2 linked regions of the Homo sapiens genome follow. The protein of the gene in region 1 purifies or fractionates together with the protein of each later gene. This does not show direct contact. Each region holds a gene or a part of one and is shown in the gene's direction. Other genes may lie near its edges.

Region 1 (4,268 bases):
CTCACAGGGTTGATGGAAACCATTAATGTGGTACTATTTCACAAACATACTGCACACTTCTAACACAAATCACAACATAGAGAGATGGGGTAACAGGCATGATTTTGTGTGAGCTCCAGAAGCTGGGCAGGGTCTTAATTAAGCTCAGTTTCCTGTCTGTGAAAGGCGACTAGCACCTGTCCTGTCAACCTCACAAGGTTATCGCAAGGCCAACTGAAACAATGCTTTGAAGATGGCAAATGTCTGTTTTAGTCCCATTGCAAATCTACCGTGGTAAATGTATTCCAAGCATAACCCAGTCCCATAGTTTTAGGTAATACAAGTCAGTTGTGGAGACTCAAATTATAAAACAGAACATAAACTCCACGTGGTAGAGAACTGTGATGCTGTGTAGCCTTACTGCACAAACCTTGTTTTGTTCCCAGTCTTTATGATAATTTCCATAATCATGTATATGCATAAAAGCAGATAAAAGGCAAAAATCAACAAGAATAGCTAACATTTATTCAGGCTGTAGAGCATGTGCCAGACAGTCTCCTAAGCCCTTCACGCACATTCTCTTATTTAAATCACATACAGCAACTCTATGAGGTAGGCACTATCATCATCATCATCATCATCATCTCCATTTTACAGATGAGGAAACAGACAGAACACAGAGAGGTTAAAGCGTTCTCTCAAGGCCACACAGCTAGCAAGTGGTAAGGCTGAAGGTCTGTTAACAACTAAGAGTGCAATCAAATCCACCACCAAACCTAAGGGGGTCCACAGGCGACCCTGATACGTCCGACTTTGGCGGGAGATTAGTGTTAAGAAATGACTTCACATGCCTTTAACTGTCGCTGCAGGCACCTTTGATTGGAGTCATAACTTTACTGCAGAGCCGGTGCCTTTAAACATCTCTCTGGCTGTCACCGGTTATTCTTTACCTCCGTTTCCACTTTTACTTTCTCTAGGCAAAGGTCGTTTGGTGCTTTAACCGAGGTGATTAGGGTAATGACGCCTGAAGAACACCGGGCTTCCCCCTCTTTTCACTTGATTACCGGCAAAGCTTCTATGTAAAACTAGAATGTTCACTAAAACCATGATTTTGGGTATTATTTTAAAGGACTCACATAGGAAATTATTACGTCCAAAGGAAAGCTAAACCTGAAGAGCTAGGAAAATGAAAAAAAGTGATGTGTCTGCGAAAACAGTAGCAGAATTAAAAAAAAAAAAAACTTTATTCCCCCCGAAGCTGTAATTTGACTGTTCTCTTTGGCAAGGCTCCAGAGACAAGGCCAAGTGCCTAATTTCTCTTTCTCTTCGCCCCCCTCCTCTCCACCTTTTTCACCCTCAGGGCAGAGGGGAGGCGGGACGAGCGATCCACTGCTCCGGCCGCCGAAGCTGGCGTCTGGGCGCGGGGAGGGGCGGGCCGGGGCGCGGCCGAGCAGTGGGGCCGAGCCCGAGGAAGAGGAAGTCGGAGCCCGAGCCTGAGCCCGAGCCCGAGCCCGACGGCGGCTGCAGGGCGCTCCGGCAGCCCGAGCCGGCGCAGCGCAGCCCGCACCCTCCCCGCCCGACCTGCGAGCGCCGCCCGGGCATGCGAAGCCGTCCCTCCCCGGGTAAGCGCCGGTCGGGCCCGGACGCCCTGGGGACTTTTCCAGGGATGGGAGGGGGGACCCGGGGACCTCCGGCGGGAGCCCCACATCCGCAGGTGGGGCCGGGCGGAGCGTGGTACCCGGGCCCCGCCGGCCCCCTGCGCGCCCCTCCGCAGTGGGGACGGAGGGCCTTGGGGGGCGCCGAGCGGTGGGGACAGAGGGCGCCGGGGGCACCGCGCGGTGGGGACGGAGGGCGCTGGGGGGCGCCGCGTCTCGGGGGTCGGAGTCGGGTCGGGGATGCTGCCCGCCGCCGCCCCGCTTGGGGTTCCGCGCCCCCAAGTTCCCGGTGCTCCCGCCCCTCGCCCCAGCGGCTGCAACATCAGCGCGCAGAGGAGTTTCTGCGAGCACCCGGGAGTTGTAGCCACCGCTTCCCCACCCCCGACTCAGCAGGACAGCCCCAGAACGGGACCCCACAGCCAGTCAGCTGGGTCAGCTCCCCAGCAGCGAAGCCGGGAGCCCGAGGACCCGGGGACGCGCGGTGGGGGCGGCGGCCGAGCTGCTGCGGCGCTCAGGGCTTGGGGGCGCCCCCGTTCTGCAGATGCGCTTTTCAGGGGGTGGGGAGTCAAGAGCCTGTGGCTCTTCCGTCACGGGGTAAACGGTAACACCTGGGCGGCCGCGACTCTGCGAGCGTTCTGGCCTCGGCGGGCGGCGGGGAACCGCAGTGATGCCCGAGCTCGCCCCTTTTGTGTCCTCGCGGTGAGCCCCGTTCCGAAGCCGGAAGCTTGGGAACGCTCTAACTGGGAGAACGGCGCTCGGCTGGTCAATTCATTCCGCTCCTCGGAAACAATGAGCTGGATCCTTGACTTGAATGTGCTGGCGGAGCGGGGTTTGTAAGCCGGCGTTTCATCCAGCTCTGGTCCTCAAGGCGCCCTTTGTACCACCCGCAGGTGGCCGAGGCTACTGCACGTATTTTCGAAATCACCGAGTGTGGGTGTTTGGGGCAGGTATCACCCCGCGAGGACCATCTCAGACTGAGAGTTGGTTTAGGAGTTTTGAACAGATTGGATACAGAACTATATTGTGTTTTGTATTTAGACCGGGGGAAAGACTAGAATGTTAACTCTAGGGTCCAGTTTGTCATCTAACAGAATTCCGGGCTTGGGTAGGTCCTGTAATGCGGTACAATAACAACCAGGTGTTAAAACCGGCATCTTCTGGATTCTCAGATTCTGTAGACAGCATACTTCTAAAAAATGTAGAGATTTTGGATTTTGATTAAATTGCTGTTAAAAACATTTCCAAGCCCATCATTTCAGGAGATCAGAAAATTTTCGAACTTTAATTTTGCCCTGTGGGACCCTGGGCAAGATACTTGCCTCTGGTCGTCTTGGCTGCCTCCCTTATAAAGCAGTGCACACGAACCAGATAGCTTCTACGGCCTCCTGCTCATTCCTCATCCCCCTCCCAAACCCCTACCCCCTGTAATTTGGTCTACAATATTTAAGACAGAGAGAAAAGTAACGGGTTGATGTTTGACTCTCTCAGCATTTTGAGTCTGGCTTCCCAATTCCTGACTTGACTTTTTGTCTCATTTGAGGTCCCAATTCTAAGCCACCAAACCACCTGACTAAAGAAACTTTTTTCTTCAGAGTGCTCCCACCTCCCTGGCTTCATCCTCAAATAGGTCATCAGTAGCAGTCCACAGTCAACAGCAATGGCTGCACGACCTTCCCCATCCTTGTGTAGCAGCCCCCCAAGTCCTCTGCTAAAGGGCAAAGCAAAGTGAGAAACAGTTACCTGGCAATCAGATGCCAGATAACTGCCCCGATTCTGCTCGTCCTTGGTGGCATTTTCCTGCTTCCCCTACTCTAAATGGGCACCCTGAATTAGGGGCACCAGCTTCCTTCAATGCCTTTAATATAGGTGACTGTCACCGAATACAGGCTTAAATATTTCAGTGGGGGATTCAGGCTGTAGTTCAAAGAAGTTAAATGATCATTTTTAAAACAATAGGAAGTGGCAACATAATTTTTCAAAACCAAGAATAACCAGTCCTATGTTGTGTTCCCCCTTTGCGGATATGATTTTTCAGTGATTTAATTAAGATCGAATGGTTCATAGTCTGTCCCATAAATATGGGAAATGCTTGAGTAGCACTAAATCTCTTGAGCCCTTCGTCAACCAAAAGCAATTCCTGAAGCTATTATCTTAATGGCGGCCGTTCACTTTTTTGCAGATTTCTTTTCCTCTCCACTCCTTTCATTGCTGGTGGTTGGTCTTTCAAGCAGTTGTCATCTTTTAATCCTCCTGCAGCATGATTAGGTCCCTGGAATATTAAACCCAGAAGGGCTCTTGGATGACCTAGTCCAGCCCTACATCTTAAAGATTTAGGAAGTCTGGTTAAGATCCAGTGATCTAGAATTAGCCTACTTGTGTGATGCTCACATCTACGTCTCTGTAGCTTTGAGACCTTCACTTCTTTAAGGAAATTACTTAGATATGGATTATTTCATAACCAGGAAAAGTAAAAATCATAGTTGGTGTCTCTCGGTTTTCTCACCTTTCCTCATTTTCACACCTTTCCTCCTTTCTTCTCCGCCCTTGTCTCAAGTTATGCCAAGGATTAAATGAAATGATTCGTATCAGTGTTTGGCACATATGGTGTGCTTTGAAGATGATTGTTGTTGATAA
Region 2 (2,829 bases), on another chromosome or scaffold:
TGGTCCAAGACCATCCCCCAAATCATCAGCTCTGATTGCAGGATTCATCAGTTTGCCGTTCTGTTGCAATCCCAGTGGAGATAAAAGCATAGACCTAGAAAAAGCCTTAAGAAGGAAGGTTGCAAGTGCCCCCAGCTTGCACTTGAGGAAGGGGTAAACCTTGCCACTGCACTCCTCTGTAGCTGCTCCACTGTGAGTTGACTGCTCGGCCTTGTACACACCCCTCCTAGAAAGACGTTTAAGCCCCTATTTCCCTTCTCTGGTGGTCAGTTCCTCTGCTCAGACGACCCCCTTCCCCACTCATTAAGGTAATTGGCCAGGCAGGCTCATGGGTCACGTGCTGAGTCTGCAATGTACAGAATCCAGACCACCACATGGCATCAGCACCATGGGTGTTTGCTCCCTGAGCAGTAGTTGTCACCCATCATTTGCTCTGTTTCCCCCACCATCAGTCCCAAAGCCCTAGACTAAACCAGAGAGCAAATTAGGTCGTGTTTGTTCCTGAATGGGCCAACTGGAGCCTTGAGACAGTGGGCAGTGGTCTGCTCTGCTGGTTTGATGGACGGCTCCCTGAGGTAGACTCTTTCCCAGCAGAATGTTAAGATCCCCAAAGGGTCCCCAAAGGTGCCTTTGCTTGTAGGGAGAAGTTTCTGTCTTGTCACAGGGTGTGGTCATCCCCACTGTCTCCCAGTTGTTAAAATAATTGTTACCTTTTCTTTTGGGAAGAAATAATCTGTAGATAATGGAACCAACTGCTGCTTATCGGTAGGATTCCATGTTCCAGGAAGGATGCGGCCTGAGGGTCAGTGGAGCTGTGTTCTGCCTTCCTCCTCTAGTCCCATCTTGTCACCCTGGAGGACTGTCTTCAATTGAGCTTTACTAGAAAGTCTTGAAACATGAGCCCTGCAGAGGCCTTGATTTAGCAAGTTGTGCCCTGCTTATATGTGCTGATTTAAGCTAATCAAATGATTTAATAGTGCTTTTTAAAAAAGAGTACTCCTGGCCGGGTGGGGTGGCTCACACCTGTAATCCTAGCACTTTGGGAGGCCAAGGCAGGTGATCACCTGAGATCAGGAGTTCAAGACCAGCCTGGCCAACATTGTGACACCCCGTCTATACTAAAAATACAAAAATTAGCCGGGCATGGTGGCAGGCACCTGTAATCCCAGCTACACAGGAAGCTGAGACAGAATTGCTTGAACCCGGGAGGCGAAGGTTGCAGTGATCTGAGATCATGCCACTGCACTCCAGCCTGGGTGAAAGAGCGATACTCCGTCTCAAAAAAATAAAGAGTACTCTGGCCGAGTGCAGTGGCTCACGCCTGTAACCCCAGCACTTTGGGAGGCCAAGGCAGGCAGTTCGCTTGAGGTAAGGGGTTTGAGACCAGTCTGGCCAACATGGGGAAACCCCGTTTCTACTAAAAATACAAAAATCAGCTGGGCATGGTGGCAGGCGCCTGTAATCCCAGCTACTCGGGAGGCTGAGGCAGGAGAATCACTTGAACCCAAGAGGCGGAGGTTGCAGTGAGCCGAGCTTATGCCACTGCACTCCAGCCTAGGCGATGGAGTGAGGCTCTGATTCAAAAATAAAAATAAGAGTACTCTGTGGACTTTTCATAAAGTGCAACTTAGTGCTTTGTTTTTCTAATACTAGATTTTACTTGCAGATAGAAATATAACAATGCCACAAATGAGAAGGCTCAAGTTGTTTAAATACATGTTTGCTCCTGGCTTACCTCTTCTTCACTATCCCATGAGAATCGTGGATTTGCCTTTCCTTGCATCCTGCAGTTCTACTTGTCTCAGAGAGAACTGCACACCAGCCCTGCATCCAGGGGATGAGGTTCTTTGACCTGTAGATGGGTCCTAAAATGAGAAGGGAGAGAAGCAGCCAGACCTTGAGCTGCTCTGCTAGGGGAGCTGTGAGTTGGGAGAAAAGTGGTCACTGGTTGGCAGTTAAGGACTTGCTGAGAGAGACATTTGTAGGAGAAAGAAGATAAGTAGGTTCATACCAGAAGGGCCAGGACTCGGATGGAGCAAATCCCAGTTCTTGTCCTACAAGCTGATTGTGCGATTGAGCACAGGCCTCTGGAATTGTGCAGAGATGAGAAACAGGCTGAATTTGCAAGGCCACAACATCAGGTTGTCATGTACCCATCATTACAGCTTATGCCCAGAAGTCCTGACCCTGTGACAGGTTATTATCTTAAAAACTCATCTTCAGCCCACTTTTTCAGAGAACTAACTCTTTCCTTAGATGTTGGGCCAGGATTTCACTATTTACCCAGAGAAACTAAGAGAAAGTGGCACTAGGCGTCTTGTCTTCCAGATGTGAGATTTCGATCTTTCTAATGAAATTGGGGGCACTTTGAGACTGTCAGGGTTTGTTCCTGTCTCAGAATGGCTCATAATAAACTCACTGAAACACTCAAAGGAAAGTACTGACTTGATCTGGATCCTTTTCAGAGGCCTGGAGATTTAATTTCACAGATTCTCTTCTTTTGGCTCAACAACAACAGCAACAAAAAACTCTTTGACTCCCCAACTTCAGAGGGAAAACTGAAGCGAAACTGGTGAGCTCTGCCACGGCAGATGCCTTCCTTTTTCACTCACGAGCTGGGCGGGCTCATCAAAGAGCAGGAAGTGCCCATTTTACACTGGGGCCAGGATGCAGACCCAGCTCCTGTCCTCCGCGAACTTACAGTCTAATTAGAGCCTCTTAAGGACAATTTGGCAGCCACTGTTAACTCTTGATGCATCATTTAAATCCTAGAACAGGCAGCTTTAAAGCAAAGAACTACAGACTTTTCCGCAGTGTCCAGCATTTGCT

The links. Proteins that work in one complex are often made in the same cells at the same time.
Region 2: the proteins of PLEKHG1 (region 1) and NUP93 purify together in Homo sapiens (affinity purification with mass spectrometry, with the first as the bait; one large-scale study listed by BioGRID). This does not show direct contact.

The regions. Positions count from the first base shown.
Region 1 is NC_000006.12:150,598,417-150,602,684, forward strand, and holds the start of PLEKHG1 (pleckstrin homology domain-containing family G member 1), read left to right. Parts: upstream 1-1,468; 5' UTR 1,469-1,579; coding exon of another isoform or gene 1,580-1,601; intron 1,602-4,268.
Region 2 is NC_000016.10:56,845,129-56,847,957, forward strand, and holds part of NUP93 (nuclear pore complex protein Nup93), read left to right. Parts: 3' UTR 1-2,829. UniProt on the Homo sapiens protein: Plays a role in the nuclear pore complex (NPC) assembly and/or maintenance. May anchor nucleoporins, but not NUP153 and TPR, to the NPC. During renal development, regulates podocyte migration and proliferation through SMAD4 signaling.